2 separate regions of the Homo sapiens genome follow, and region 2 is linked to region 1. The links come from fine-mapping of genetic effects on plasma protein levels. A gene starts in region 1. The other region holds a variant in brackets. All regions are shown on one strand. Distances are from middle to middle.

Region 1 (8,343 bases):
TATTATCTGTATTTTAAATGATGTATTCTCACTAATTTTCCGACACCTGGTGAAACATTAGACAGAAGAGAAGACATTTTTGTTTTGGTCTTCCCATTGTCACAGCTCATACCCTTAAGTGTTCCATGCCCTCAAGGATCTGGTTTCACTGTCTTCATCAAATTAATTAACTGGAAAAAAAAGCTTGAGAAGGGGAAGGGGGGAAATATTTATAATGTTTGGCAAGAAGGAAGATGAAACTGCTAACTGAGAAAAAAAATGCATGCTGTTTAATCTTTTTCCTGTTTGCAATGTTTTCTTCCCCTTCCTGTACAGTTTTGCCTTGGGGCAGAAAATTCTCAGCACATAGAAGATTTTTCCCTCTCTCAGACATAACTTAAAAGCATAGTAACATAGTAACTAGCAACAGTAAGGAAGAGGTTTTTTTGTTGTTGTTGTTGTTTTTTTTTTTTGGTTAGGGGGAGTCTGAATTCCAGATGTGTGGCAACTAAGAGATGGGTGATTATTTGTAATTTGGTTAAAATGATCAGTCTAATTTTCCAAAGGTGAAACTGAATGGCAATAAGTACTGAGTTCTGATAAACAGAATGCCCTCACCCCCAACAAGGTAGATACCTATGTCCGAATTACCGAAACCTGTGAATGTTACCTTGTGTGGCAAAAAGGACTTTGCAGATGTGATTAAATTAAGATCTTGAAATTAGATCATGTTGGATTATTTGGGTGGACCAAAAATAATCACAAGGTCTTTATAAAAGGGAGGCATAAGGGTCACAGTCAGAGAAGATGTGACAGTGGACCAGAGGTCCGAATGATGTAGCTGCAAGCCAAGAAATGCAGGCATTCTCAAATCGCTGGAAAAGGCAGGGAGCAAATTCTGCCCGAGCCTCCAGATGGAGTGCAGCCCTTCCAACACCTTGATTTTAGTCCCCTAAGATCCATTTCAGACTTCTGATCACCAGAACTGTAAGATAATAAATGTTGTGTTGTGTTAAGCCACTGAGTTTGTGGTAATTTCTTACAGTAGCAATAGGAAACTAATACACATATGATGTTTACAGGGTTGTGTGTTGACTCCCATTATAGACAGGAATTTCACACAATAATTTTCAAGAAAACATATTGTATTCCAGACTCAAATACTAAGGCCGTAAAGCTCTTCAACCTGGAGAAAGCCTCTAAAAGTCATCATAATTGGGAAATTTACAAGGATGGGCCAAAGTAGATCAATATTCTGTTTTACTTTTTGGTGCAAGTTTAGACAAATCTGTTTATCTTGGACACGTTCAATGCCTTACTGTAAAGTTTGTCTGTGTACAGCAGAAGTGAGAGGAGAACCAATGAGCTGAGAGATAATTCAATCAATCTGCTTCCTCCGTCTTTGCTTCAGGGCTTCATACAGGAAATCTATTGCTGTGTCAAGTTCCAGAGAAAAGCTTCTGTTCGTCCAAGTTACTAACCAGGCTAAACCACATAGACGTGAAGGAAGGGGCTAGAAGGAAGGGAGTGCCCCACTGTTGATGGGGTAAGAGGATCCTGTACTGAGAAGTTGACCAGAGAGGGTCTCACCATGCGCACAGTTCCTTCTGTACCTGTGTGGAGGAAAAGTACTGAGTGAAGGGCAGAAAAAGAGAAAACAGAAATGCTCTGCCCTTGGAGAACTGCTAACCTAGGGCTACTGTTGATTTTGACTATCTTCTTAGTGGCCGGTAAGTTTGAATTCTCTTTGGGAGAACAGTGAGAAACCTGGTCTCAGCTCTTCCTGAGTTTATTTTTTGTCTTTCTTCTGGGGCAATACAAATCAATTGCAATAATAAATATAGGGGGTTGCTAAATATGGGTTACTCCCATATCTAGTTTACTTTATTATCCTTTTTTCCGGTGTCTTGCTTGTTGTACTTTGTATCCTACTACAATATACAGATCTCTATAATTTGTCTTACTGTCCATTTCCTTATTTCCTCCTGTTTTTTGAACAAGGCAGGATAAATCAAATACATACTAGCAGCAATCAAAGTCAGTTAGGTTCTCTTTATCTTATTCTCTTCCCCAACCCCCTTTTTTGAGACAGGGTCTTGCTCTGTTGCCCAGGCTGGAGTGCAGTGGTGCAATCGTAGCTCACTGCAGCCTGTAACTCCAGGTCTCAAGCAGTCCTCCCACTCAGCCTCCTGAGTGTCTAGGACTACAGATATGCGCCACTATGCTTGGCTAATTTTTAAAATTTTTGGTAGAGATAGAGTCTTGCTATATTGTCCATGCTGGTCTTGAGCTCCTGTCTTCAAGCAATTCTCCCACCTCAGACTCCCAAAGCATTGGGATTACAGGCATGAGCCACTGCACCCAGCCTCTTCTCTCTTAATTTTTTTTTTTAAGATAAGAACGCTAACTCATTTAGGTCCACATTGCCAGTGGCATAGATTAGGACAGTTTATTGCTTTCTGTCACTTTCGATGATTAGGCACTTCAAAAATATAATATGCCTACAGTTACAGTGGTGCGTCTGTGATGTATGTCTGTATTTATCTTCAAGATGTGTGGGCTGTAAGAGACACTACGAGTTAGAGAACAGACTCTTCAACATCTAGGTTCCTATAGAAGTTATAGAGAACTTGGGCCACTGTGGGGGTGTCCTGGTTTCACTGTAGAAGGTTGGTAGGAGTTGGTGTGGGAGGGAGTTTTCAGGTTTCACTTTTGGTAGACAGAGCAGCTGCAAGGGAAGAGTGTAGTTGGTTTTAAATGTTATAATTTGATAATTGAAAGAAGAAAAGGTATTTTTCCTCATTTCTGAATGACTTTAAAATGCTGCTTATCTTCCACAAAAAATCTTCTTTCCACATGTTAATCTTACTAGTGAACACATGCAAAATAACTACACTCTTTGACTGCACCTTTCTATTGAGAATTTTCACATGCTTTTTTCCCTTTGATCTGCACAGCAACCCAGTGAAGTAGACATGGAAGACACCTCTCCATTTTACAAAGGTAGAAATGGAGGCGTAGAGAGGTGAAATGATTTGGCCAAGGTTAGATATGACTAGTATGTGCCAGAATCACAATCAGTAATGATATACATCAGTAAGCACCACTAAACATTTGAGTGGGCAATTTTCCTCATTATTTAACCATTGTGCTTTTCACTGAAGAGCATCAGTGAAAAAAGTCAAGCCAATACTTAGTTTTAGCCTTAATAGACTGTTACTCACCTAAAAAGTCAAGTGATCTGAATCTTTCAGTAGTTCAGATCTTGTTGTAGAAAGCTCTTATAGCAACTTGTGTAGGACCCAGCTTGGCTGGGGCAGCCAGATAGGCAAGGAGCTGTTTATGTCAAATTGCACTGTTACTCCTGGGAAAAGGAAAAAAAATGATTAAAACATAATTTGTAATTTTCAATTTTAAAGGTTGAAAGGTTTAAATTTTAAAACTATTTCTGAACACAACTAGGAAAGACTACATATAGCAGATCTATGAAGTCTATGCTTATGTTATTGTAAAGTTATTAAATGTTTAAAATCAGGATTTAAAAAAGCATATTACTTTACATGTAGTGATTTGGTGTGATAGGTTAACCATGACATGATTTAGAATAATGAGAAGCATACCACTTGGGGAAATATGACTTTATGTCTTTATTGCTAAAACTGCTATGTTATTAATACTGCCAAACAGAAAGAACTCGCTTTGTACAAGGTAAATTCACAAAGGAACAAGGGAGCTAATGACTTAAATGTAAAACATAGTATTCATTTGGTTTCCCTATTTTCTTTTTGTCTACTTATTTGCTTATAACTTCAAGCAGCTTGGCAGTTAGTAAACAAGATTTATCCAGAAAAAACCTAAGGGGAAAAATAAAAACAACCTAAATTGTGTACATCAGAGCTATATTCCCAGCCTTGTACCTGGTCCCCTTCCCGGACACTCCCCGTACCCTGTGCCACTTCTTCCTCCTTTTTTTTAGCCCTATTGTCTTCTAGATTTTTGTGTGTGTGTTCAAATTATATTTTGGTGTTCCAATTAAAATTATTCCATCTTTTATAAAAGTTACTGATTTTGTGATTATGAGTTACTAAAAAGGAACCCTTCACTTCTTTCCTTCTTTGGGCTAATTTTTATTCATTTATTGTTGTCTTCCACTAGAGGACAGGCAGTAACAAGAAGAGGAGATAAAAATCAAGACAGGGCTCTAAGGTAGCTTTGGCAGATTTGCAAACAGTGGAAAAAGATTCAAAACAATTGTGCAAAAGAAGGGTTTTGTCCTTATTAATAACTTTAGTCCTATCTTCCTTTTCTAGTTTGCATATTTGTGAATTTACATGTTATAATAATTTATAGGTGTGTTTTTCTCTAAATGTTCATGCTTAAGCAATTAATAAATTAATTAAAAGTCCTTATTAATGTCTGTGTGTGTGTGTAGAATAGTGCCTAAAAGTTATTAGTAATCTAAATTAGAAAGACAAAGGTAAGATGAAACAATTGGTGAACATTTAAAATCAGTAAATCTTGAAATTGTATATGAAACTAGTACAAATCTAAAGGAGGGAGAAATTACAGTGGGTTGGAGTTGTGGAGGATTTTATGGAGATGGGTCTTGAGCTAGGCTTTGAATGACAGGTTTGGATAAATGGGGAAATGCAGAGAAAGGAATTGGAAGGATGGGATGTGTAGCATGTGCAAATGCAAGGTGCTTCAGAGAGAGAAAGAGCTGTAGCTTGCAGGAACAGAGGTTGTGTGTTAAATAATAGTAGGAAATAAGGCTGGATTTTGGGGGTCCTTAATAGCTAAATTAAAGAACCTGGGTATTAGTCAGTAGACAATGAGGAACCACCTGTTCTTTGGTGAACAGGAAAATTTATAATTAAGTAGGATTTTTTGGAGAATAATGTGGTAACAGTGTCCCATTGAGTGGCGGTGGCACTAGGTAAAATATTTATTTTGAAACATGAGTCAAGAGCTTCTGCCCTGGGGTTCTCATTTGAAAAAAGTTCTGTGATGCCGCTGAGGTATATATGTGACTGAGAAGGGAGTTTCGTTGTGGAGGAAGATATTAAATTCAGTATAGGAAGGGAGGACAAGTAGGAGGAAAATTCCTACAGATACTTGGAAATACAGTCAGCCCTCTGTATTGCATCCCTGGATTCAACCAACTTCAGTTGAAAATATAAAGGGAAAAAATAGATGATTTCATTAGTACTGAACATGTACAGATTTTGTTCTTGTCATTTCCTAAATAATTCAATATAATAGCTACTTATGTATTATTTACATTGTATTAGGTTTTATAGCAATCTAGAGATGATTGAAAGTATGTGAGAGATTGTACATAGGTTATATGAAATACTACACCATTTTATATTAGGGATTTGAGCATCCTTGAATTTTGCCATCTCTGGGGGTCTAGAACTAATCCCCCAAGGACACTGAGGGATGACTGTATAGAAAACTCTAGTGTTTGTGAATCATTCATGAAGTAGATGATCCATCCCACGAACAGAATAAACATATGGACAAAAACAATAGAATAAGCACTAGAGATATTTGGATTTGGGCTCTAAGAACCATACTTATCTCTTTCCAGTCTATAAAAGATAGGAAGATCTGAGAAGAGACAGGAAGGGAGCCAAAGTGGAGTATCAATTGAGTGCTTAACCTCATGTAGGAGGAGATACTCTTCTGAAATTGAGGATTAAGATGAGACATTAGATAGAGGGATGCTAGTAGCTTGAGGATGGCAATAAGGTAATGGGAACAAATGAGAGAGTTTACCGTAGATAAATTTCCTCCCAATAAGGTCATGAATATTTCAGTTAATGGCATTTAGTTAATAAAATGACCCAGTTGTTGTTTGATTTTATGTTGTGTCTGAAAAATTAACCATTTGTGTCTGAAAAACCATTTGTGTCTGAAAAATGTAGTAGCCATCAACATGTTTTTACCTCTTCTGCCTTATTATCACTCACATACATTTGTCAATTGCTGACTGGGATTTGGGAGCAGATCTGTGGTTATAAAATACCTTTGGACTATGTGATGCTAGTAGGCCCTAAGAATCAAGTCAACAATCATTACTTTTTAAATAATAATAATGGTAATAAATATCACTGATTTATATAATTCATATAATAGACACAGTCACAATCAGCCCTTTTTCCCCCCAGGAAGAAATGATATTGTTCATGCATTAACACTAAGCAACAACTTCAGAGTTTTTCTACATAGAATTTATATGCCTAGACCCCATTCTAGGACCAAAATCTTTAAGGAAAGCAATACCAAAAAGTTCCAGGATTAAAGCAGGGCTAAAAGTTTTTCTATTTCTTTTTTGAGACAGGGTCTTACTCTATCTATCACTCAGGCTGGAGTGCAGTGGTGCAATCATGGCTTACTGCAGCCTTGACCTCCCAGTCTCAGGTTATCCTCCTGTTTCAGACTCCCAAGTAGCTGGGACTACAGGTGTGCACCACCACGCCAGGCTAATTTTTTTTTTTGTATTTTTTGTAGAGACAGGGTTTTCCCATGTTGCCCAGGCTGGTCTTGAACTCCTGGGTTCAAGCAATCCTCCTGCCTTGGCCTCCCAAAGTGTTGGAATTACAGGCGTGAGTCACTGTACCTGGCCAGTTTTTCCACTTTTGAAGAAATAATTTTCTTCAAAAATGTCTGTTACTTTGAGTTATTGTTGCTGTTGCAGGTTCTCTTGGAAGTTAGACTCTGAGATAGAGTTTTGTGTACAGTATGCTTGTGAGCAGAGGGAGAAGTCTACCTGCAATCTCAACCAACTGACACCCTCACTGACCCCACAGGGAGCTCAGGAGCTAGATTGGCCTTAGAGAGGCCCTGCATTGAATAAAAATGGCTGTTCCTTTATAACTCCATCTAAATCAGTCGTTGGATATGGGCTCCCCTGGAAAGGGTCTGACTTTGGTCTAAGTAACTGAAGTCATCCCTGGAGAGGCTGAAAACTGAAGACTGTCTGTTGACAGTGATCCTAGTGGCAGGAACAAAAAGTCAGAGGCAACTGTTGGTGGCACATACTATGTCCACTCTAGTTGTCATTTCTAATACTCTTAATTCCTTCTTGAATTTCCAAGTTTCTACCTGGTATTATTTTCTTTCATCCTGAATAATTTCTGTTATTGTTTCTAGTAGTGTAGGTCTGCTAGTGAGGAGTTCTCTTAGTTCTTAGTTCCCTTTTTATACATATTTTCCCCAATATCTTGTCTCTCTGTTCTTTTGATTGAATAATTTCTATTGCTATATATTCAAGTTCACTGACAATTACAATTTCCTTTCTCCTCTTCATTCTTCTGTAAAGCCCTAGTTAATATATTATTTTAGATATTGTATTTTTCAATTTTAAGATTTCCATTTATTTGTTAAAAGTTTTTTTTCTCTGCTGAGATTTTTCTGTGTTTTTATTCATTCATTGTGAGTATATATTTCTTTATGTCACTAAGCATAGCTGAATGTTGCTGTAAGACTCTTGTCTGAGAATGCGAGTGTCTGGGTCAACTTGAAGTTGTTAGTCTCCCTTAATGTATTTTCTCCTAAGCATAGGCCACATTTTCTTGGTTCTTTGTAAATTAAATAGTTTTATTTGGGTTTTGAATGTTGCACAGATTCTGTTATATTGCTGTGTTGATATTTTACTTGGTTGGACCCAAACTGCAAACTCTACCCCTTGGACAGCATCTCAAATCTGAGTTCTTTTACTGGTAGCTAATCTGCTTTGACTGTGACCTGCAATGTGTGGTTTAGAGTCATCAGAGATATGGGTAGAGTGTATGCAGAATTTGGAACTCTTTTACTCTGACTCTGTCACTTTTCAGAGAGTAAAGTTGCCCTAAAATCTGCCTGCTGGTTCTTCAGAAAACTGTGGGCTTTCCATTAGAGTAGCTGCCTAATGTGGTATCATCTGCAGCCCTCTCTGGGACTAACATCGGTAAAAATGGGGAAATAATGGGAACCTACACCCACAACTCTGATCCCCTATTTCCTTCTTCCAAGCATTGACACCCTTCAAGAATTTTTCTGCTTCCTCCACTTTCCAGTAACCTCAGGTAGTTGTTTTTATATTTTGTCCACAATTTATAGTTCTTACCTGTGGAAACTCACTGGCCCATAAAGAAGTGAAACTTTCTTCAAATATACATATTTTAAAATATTATTGTATTTTTACAACTAATATTGACTTAGTGGTTATATTGTCTTGGATGTTAAGATTGAATATATTATTATGCTTTTTTGCTTTCTAAATGTTACCCATGCATTGAATGTTTTGGTACATTTCACTTTTCTCAGTAAAATTTCGTTCTTCTTTCCCATAATTTCTAGTAAAATTTCTAGACACTA
Region 2 (8,343 bases), 34 kb after region 1:
CTACTATATACTGTTTCATGGGTAGTGTGAATACCTTGCAATAACAAAATAGTCCTAGTTCCTTCCTTCCTTTCCTTGTATCATTATTTTATTCATTCTTCTTATACATAACACATACATAATCAAATACATTGTTACTATCATTATTTTGGACAAAGTGTTATCTGTTAGATTAATTAAGAATAAGAAAAATGCAAGTTTTAATTTTACCTTCACTTGTTTGTTTTCCAGTGTTCTTCTTGATATAGATCTGAGTTTTTGACTGATATTATTTTACTTCTCTCTAAAAAAATTTCTCTCAACATTTTTTGGAAGGCAGGCCTACAGACAACAAATTCCCACAATTTTTGTTTGTCTGAGAACATCTTTATTTCTCCTTCAGTTTTGGAGGATAGTTTTTGCAGGACATGAAATTCTAGGTTGGTAGTTTTTTTCCCTCAACACCTCAAATATTTTACTTTGCTGTCTTCTTGCTTGCATGGTCTCTGAGGAGAAGTTGGGTATAATTCTTTTCTTTTCTTCTTGGTAGGTAAGGTGTTTTTCCCTTCTGGCTTCTTTCTGAAGTATTTCTTTACATTTGATTTTCTGTAATTTGAAAATAATACATCTAGGTGTAGGTTATTTTTGGCATTTATTCTGCTTGGCGTTCTCTGAGTTTCCTGGATCTGTGATTTAGTGTCTGAAATTAATTTGGAGAAAATTCTTAGTCATTATTATTTAAAGTATTTCTTATTTTTTTCATTTTTTTAACTACAATATAGCAACTTTTCAAAAACAAAATTTGAAATAGATTAAAACTATTGTGATTGTGAAAAACTCTACAGAGCTCAAGGGAAGGAATGCATGTTGATCTCAGAAATTATGGAATTAGAAAGTTGAACTAGATGAGGGCTCTCATCTCTGTTCCTCTCCTGCTTCTGCTTTAGTTACTTATTTATATTAATTTTAACTGACACATAATAATTGCACATATTTATGGGGTACATAGTAATATTTTGATACATACAATTTGTAGTAATCAGATCATGGTAATTGGCATATCCTTCACTTCAAACATTTCCTTGTGTTGGGAACATTCAATATCTTCTTCTAGCTCTTTGAAAATATGTAATATATTATTGTGAACTATAGTCATCCTACAGTACTATAAAACAATAGAACTTGCTCATCCTACCTAGCTATAATTTTGTGCCCTTTAACAAATTTCCTCTATTCCCCCCTTTCCCTTACCCTTTGTAGTCTATAGAAGCCTGTGTTCTGCCTTTTACTTCTATGAGACCAACTTTTTTTAAACTTCTGCATAGAATGAGAACATGTGATGTTTGGCTTTTTGTTCTTGGCTTATTTCACTCAACATAATATCCTCCGGTTCCATCCATGTTGCTGTGAATGACAAGATTTCATTTTTTATGGCTGAATAGTATTCCATTGTGTATATATACCACATTTTCTTTATCCATTCATTTGTTATTGGGCGTTTGGGTTGATTTCCTGTCTTGGCTATTGTGAATATTGCTGTAATAAACATAGGGGTGCAGATAGATATTTCTTTAACATATTTATTTCCTTTCCTTTGAATAAATGTTTACGAGCAAGATTGCTGGATCATATGACATTTCTATTTCTAATTTTTTTAGGAACTTCCATACTATTCTTCATAGAGACTGTATTAGTTTACATTCCTATCAGTGATTTATAAGAATTCCCTTTTCTTTGCATCCTCACCAACATTTATTTGTGTCTTTTTGATAATAGCCATTCTAACTGGGGTGAATGATATCTCCTTGTGATTTTAATTGACATTTCCTTGATGATTAGTGATGTTGAGCACTTTTTCATGTATTTGTTAACCATATGTATGTCTTCTGTTCAGAAATATCTGTATCAATTACCCATTTTTAAGTTAGTTTTTCTGTTATTGTGGAGATATTTGAATTCCTTGTATATCTGGATATTACTCTTTTGTTGGATGAATATTTTACAAATATTTTATCCCATTCTGTAAGTTTATTCATTCTGTTTATTGTTTTGCTGTGCAGAAGGTTTTTAGTTTTATATAATCCCATGTGTTTATTTTTGCTTTAGTTACCTATGCTATTGAGGTCTTATTCTTAAAATTATTTCTCAGATCAATGTCCTGAAGTATTTCATCGGTGTTTTCTTCTAGCAGTTTTATAGTTTCTGGTCTTATATTTAGGTCTTCAATGAATTTTGAGTTGATTTTTGTATGGGGTGAGAGGCAGGAGGTCTAGTTTCATTCTTCTGCATATGAATATTCAGTTTACCCAGCGCCATTTATTAAAGAAGGTGTCCTTTCCCAAATGTATGTTCTTGACATCTTTGTCAAAGCAGTTGACTGTATATATGTGGACTAATTTCTGGGTTCTCTATGCTGTTCCATTTTTCTATGTGTCGGTTTTTATGCCAGTACCATGCTGTTTTGATTAGTACAGCTTTATGGTATATTTTGAAGTCTGTTAGTGTGATGCCGCAGCTTGTTTTTTTTTTTTTTTTGGTTTGTTTGTTTTTTGCTCAGTATGGGCTTTGGCTGTTTCGGGTCTTTTGTGGTTCCATGTAAATTTCAGGATTTTTTTTCTATTTTTGTTAAATGAAATGACACTTCATTGGTATCTTGATAGTAATTACATTTATTCTGTAGACTACTTTGGGTAGTATGGGCATTTTAACAATATTAGTTATTCTAGTCCATGAATATGGGATGTCTTTCTATTTTTTGTGTCTTCTTAAATTTCTTTCTGCAGTGTTGTATGGCTTTACTTGCAGAGATCTTTCATCTCCTTGGTTAAATTCATTCGTAGATATTTTATTCATTCATTTATATATTTTTGTAGCTATTGTAAATGGGATTGCTTTCATGATTTCCTTTTCATCTGGTTTGTTGTTTGTGTATAGAAATGCTACTAAGTTTTGTCTATTGATTTTGTATGCTGCAACTTTATTGAATTTGTTTATCAGTGTTAACAGTTTTTTGGTGCAGTCTTTAGGGTTTCTCTATATAAGATAATTTTATCTGGAAACATGGACAATTTGACTTCCTCCTTTCTAAATTGGATGTACTTTACTTATTTATTTTTCTTGCCTAATTTCTCTGGGCCAGACTTCCAGTACTATCTTGAATAACAAGGGTGAGAGTAGGCACTTTTTCTTCTAATTCTTCTTCTAATTCTTAAAAGCTGAAAGCTTTTCCCCATTTAGTATAATATTAGCTACATGGCCTATAGATGGCCTTTATTGTGTTGAAGTACTTTCTTCTGTACCTAATTTATTGAAAGTTTTTAGTGATGAAGGGATGTTGAATTTTATAAAATGCTTTTTCTGATCATATGATATTAAAATAATCACCTAGTTTTTGTTCTTCATTTTGTTGATGCAATGTATCACAAATATCGATTTGCATATGTTGAACCATCCTTGCATATCTGAGGTGAATCTCACTTGATTATGGTGCCTGATGTTTTTGATGTTCTGTTGAATTCATTTGCTAGTATTTTATATATATGTTTATTAGTAGTATTGGCTTGTGCTTTTCTTTTTTGCTGTGTCTTATCTGGTTTTTGTATCACAATCATGCTGGGCTTGTCAAATGAGTTTTGACATTCGATGACATTCAAATGAGTTTTACATTCAATTTTTTGGAATAGTTTGAAGTATTTCATCTGTGTATCAAGGACTGGTATTAGTTCTTTAAAAGTTTGGTAGAATTCAGCTGTGAAGCCATTTGTTCCTGGACTTTTCTTTGTTGGGAGACTTTTCATTACTAATTCAATCTCATTACTCATTATTGGACTGAGGTTTTCCATTTCTTGTTGGTTTAAAGTTGTTAGGTTGTCTGTATCCGGGAATTTTTCAGTTTTCTCTAATCTTTTGAATTTATTCATGTGTAGTTGTTCATAATAGTTTCTAATGGTCTTTTGTATTTATGTAGTCTCTGTTATTATGTCTCCTTTTTGTTTCTGATTTTATTAATTTGGTTTTTTCTCTTTTTTTCTTTATTCATCTAGCTAATGGCTTGTCAATTATGTTAATCTTTTTACAAACCCACAGCTCATATCATACTGAATGGGCAAAAACTAGAAGCATTCCCCTTGAAAACTGGCACAAGACAAGGATGCCCTCTCTCACCACTTCTATTTAACATGGTATTGGAAGTTGTGGCCAGGGTAATCATGCAAGAGAAAGAAACAAAGAAAATTCAAATAGGAGGAGAGGAACTCAAGTTATCTTTGTTTGCAGATAACATGATTCTATATCTAGAAAACCCCATCATCTCAGCCCAAAAGCTTCTTAAGCTGATAAGTAACTTCTGCAAAGTTTCAGGATCCAAAATCATTGTGCAAAAATTGCTAGTATTCCTATACACCAACAACAGACAAGACAAGAGCCAAATCATAAATGAACGCCCATTCACAATTGCCACAAAAGAATAAAATACCTAGGAAAACAACTAACAAGGGAAGTGAAGGACCTCTTTAAGAAAAACTATAAACTGCTGCTCAAAGAAATCAGAGATGACACAAACAAATGGAAAAACAGTCCATGCTCATGGATAGGAAGAATCAATATTGTGAAAATGACCATACTGCCCAAAATAGTTTATAGATTCAGTGCTATTCCCATTAAGCTACAATTGACATTGTTCACAGAATTAGAAAAAACAGTTTTAAAATTCATATGGAACCAAAACATAACCCAAATAGCAAAGGCAATTCTCAGCAAAAAGAACAAAGCTGGAAGCATCATGCTACCTGACTTCAAACTATACTATAGGGCTACAGTAATCAAAACAGCATGGTAGTTGTACGAGAACAGACACATAGACCAATGGAACAGAATAGAGAACCCAGAAATAACACCGCACACCTACAACTATCTTATCTTTGACAAACCTGACAGAAA[CA/A]AGCAATGGGGAAAGGATTCCCTATTTAATAAATGGTGCTGGGACAGCTGGCTAGCCATATGAAGAAAATTGAAAGTGGACCCCTTCTGATATGGTTTGGCTGTGTCCCCACCCAAATCTCATCTTGAAATGTAGTTTCTATAATCTCCATGTGTCATGGGAGGGACCTGCTGGGAGGTAATTTAATCATGGGGGGCAGTTACTCTCATGCTGTTCTCATGATAGTGAGTGAATTCTCATGAGATTTGACGGTTTTATAAGGGGCTTTTCCTCCTTTTGCTTGGCACTTCTCCATGCTGCTGCCATGTGAAAAAGGACATGTCTGCTTCCCCTTCTGTCGTGATTGTAAATTTTCTGAGGCCTCCCAAGCCATGCTGAACTATGAGTCAATTAAACCTCTTTCTTTTATAAATTATCCAGTCTTGGGTATGTCTTTATTAGCAGCATGAGAGCAGAGTAAAACACCTTCCTTACATCATGTACAAAAATCAACTCAAGATGGATTAAAGACTTAAACGTAAAACCCCAAACTCTAAAAACCCTAGAAGAAAATCAAGACAATATCATTCAGGACATAGGCTCAGGCAAAGATTTCATGATTTCATGACAAAGATGCCAAAAGCAACTTCAACAAAAACAAAAATTGACAAATGGGATCTGATTAAACTAAAGAGCTTCTGCACAGCCAAAGAAACTATCAACAGAGTAAACAGACAACCTACAGAATGGGAGAAAAGTTTTATAATCTATTCATCTAACAAAGGCCTAATGTCCAGCATCTACAAGGAACTTAAACAAATGTATAAGAAAAAAAGAACCCCATTAAAAAGTGGGTAAGGAACATGAATAGATAATTCTCAAAAGAAGACATACATGCAACCAAGAAACATATGAAAAAAAGCTCAACATCACTGATCATTAGAGAAATGCAAATCAAAACTACAATGAGATACTATCTCACACCAGTCAGAATGGTGATTACTAAAAAGTCCAGAAACAACAGATGCTAGCGAGGTTATGGAGAAAAAGGAACACTTTTACACTGTTGGTGGGAGTGTAAATTAGTGCAACCATTGTGGAAGACAATGTGGTGATTCATCAAAGACATAGAGGCAGAAATACTGTTTGACTCGGCAATCTGATTACTGGGTATATACCCAAAGGAATATAAATAATTCCATTTTAAGGATACATGCACGTGTATGTTCATTGCAGCACTATTCACAATAGCAAAGACATGAAGTCAACCTAAATGCCCATCAGTGATAGACTGAATAAAGAAAATGTGGTACATATATACCATGAAATATTATGCAGCCATGTATAGATGAGTTCATGTCCTTTGCAGGGACATGGATGCAGGTGGAGGTGATTAGATTATCCTCAGCAAACTAATGCAGAAACAGAAAACCAAACAGTGCATTTTCTCACTTATAAGTGGGAGCTGAATGATAAGAACACATGGACATATGGAGGGTGGAAACACACACTGGAGCCTGTCAGAGGGTGGGGAGTGGGAGGAGGGAGAGCATCAGAAAGAATAGCTGATGGATGCTGGGCTTAATACCTCGGTGATGGAATGATCTGTGCAGCAAATCACCATGGCATACATTTACCTAATAAACCTGCACATCCTACCTATATACCCCTGAAGTTAAAATATTGCAAACAGAAAAAACAAAACTTTTTTGTTGTTGGTTTTTTGCATTTCTTTTTAGGTTCAGTTTCATTGAGTTCTGCTCTGATCTTTATTCCTCCTACTAATTTTGGGTTCAGTTTATTCCTGGTTTTCTTCCTTAATATGTGCTGTTAGGATGTTAATTTGAAATATTACTACTTTTTTGATGTAGGGATTTATTGCTATGGATTTGCCTCTTAATGCTGCTTTTGCTGTATCCCTTAGGTTTTGGTATTTTGTGTTTCTATTTTCATTTGTTTCAAGAAATTCTTAAACTTCTTAATTTCTTTCTTTACTCATTTGTCATTCAGGAACATGCTGTTTAACTTTCATGTATTTGTATAGTTTCAAATGTTCCTCTTGTTATTGATTTCTAATTTTATTCCATTGTGGTCACATAAGATGATATGATTGTAATTTTTAAAAATTATTTGAGACTTGTTTTGTGACCTAACATATTGTCAATTCTGGAGAATGTTCCATGTGCTGGTGAAAATAATGTGTATTTTGCAGCTGTTATATAAAATGTTCTGTAAAGGTCTGTTAGGTCTGTTTGATTTATGGTGTGGTTTAGATCCAATGTTTCTTGATTTTCTGTCTAGATCATCTGCCTAATGCTGAAAGTAGGGTGTTGAAGTCCCCACCTATTATTGCTTTGAGGTTTATCTCTCCCTTTAGCTTTAATAATATTAGCTTTATATATCTGGGTGCTCCAACATTGGGTCCATATATATTTCCAATTGTTATGTCGTCTTGCTGAATAAATTCCTTTATTTTTACATAATGTTCTTTTTTATATAGCCTTTGTCTTAAAGTCTGTTTTATCTAATGTAAGTATAGCTACTCCTGCTTGTATTTGGATTCTGTTTGCATGTCTTTTTTCCACTCCACTTTCAGTTTATGTGTGTCTTTACAGGTGAGATGAGTTTCCTGTAGGTGGCATATAGTTGGTTTTTTGAGATGGAGTTTCGCTCTTGTCACCCAGGCTGGAGTGCAATGGCATGATCTTGGTTCACTGCAACCTCTGCTTCCCCGGTTCAAGCAATTCTCCTGCCTCAGCCTCCTGAGTAGCTGGGATTACAGGTGCCCGCCACCATGTCCAGCTAATTTTTGTATTTTTAGTAGGGATGGGGTTTCATCATGTTGGCCGGGCTAGTCTCAAACTCTTGACTTCAGGTAATGCACCCTCCTTGGCCTCCCAAAGTGCTAGGATTACAGGCGTGAGCCACCATGCCCAGCTGGGTCTTATATTTTTAAATCCACTTGGCCAGTCTATATCTTTTAATTGGGAAATTGAATCCATTTACATTCAAGATTATTTGATAGATGAGAACTTACATCTGTCATTTTATTGATTTTTTTTTTCTGCTTGGTGACAGTCTTGCCTTTATTTCTGAAGGATAGTTTTTCTGGATATAATATTCACTGACAGTTATTTTCTTTCAGTACTTTGAATGTATCACTCCATTTTCTCTTGGCCCATAAGGTTTCTGATGAGAAATCTGCTATCAGTATAAGGGGGATTCCCTTATATTTGGCTTGATGCTTTTCTCTTGCGTGTTTTTATCATTCTTCCTTTGTCTTTGCCTTTTGATAATTTGACTATAACATTCCTTAGAGAGGATGTATTTGGGTTAAATCTATTTGGGAAATTTTGAACTTCTTGGATCTGAATCTCTCTCTCTCTCCCAAAACTTGGAAAGTTTTCTGCTATTATTTTATTAAATATGTTTTCTGTGCCTTTTTC

Direction of the effects. Alleles are on the strand shown, and positions count from the first base shown. The strength of an association depends on the size of the effect and on how common the allele is.
With allele CA in place of A in region 2, the plasma level of the protein whose gene starts at base 1,397 in region 1 is lower (strong association).

Evidence for each region. A credible set is the group of variants that fine-mapping cannot tell apart. PIP is the posterior inclusion probability: the model's chance that the variant is causal. Protein levels are from antibody-based Olink assays in UK Biobank. Linkage for the fine-mapping came from a reference panel and not from the study's own genotypes, which makes the PIPs less certain.
Region 2: its variant is the best candidate, but not a certain one, in a credible set for the plasma level of the CD200R1 protein (UK Biobank, PIP 0.61).

What each region holds. Positions count from the first base shown.
Region 1 is chr3:112,968,157-112,976,499 of GRCh38, reverse strand. CD200R1 (CD200 receptor 1) reads left to right here and starts at 1,397. Exons shown (of 8, transcript NM_138806.4): 1 at 1,397-1,709. The coding sequence starts at 1,643.
Region 2 is chr3:112,934,041-112,942,383 of GRCh38, reverse strand. All of the region lies in intron 2 of CD200R1 (CD200 receptor 1), which reads left to right. Among named protein-coding and RNA genes, the nearest start is that of CD200R1, 37 kb to the left of the region's middle. The variant CA/A (reference allele first, on the strand shown) is at 4,918.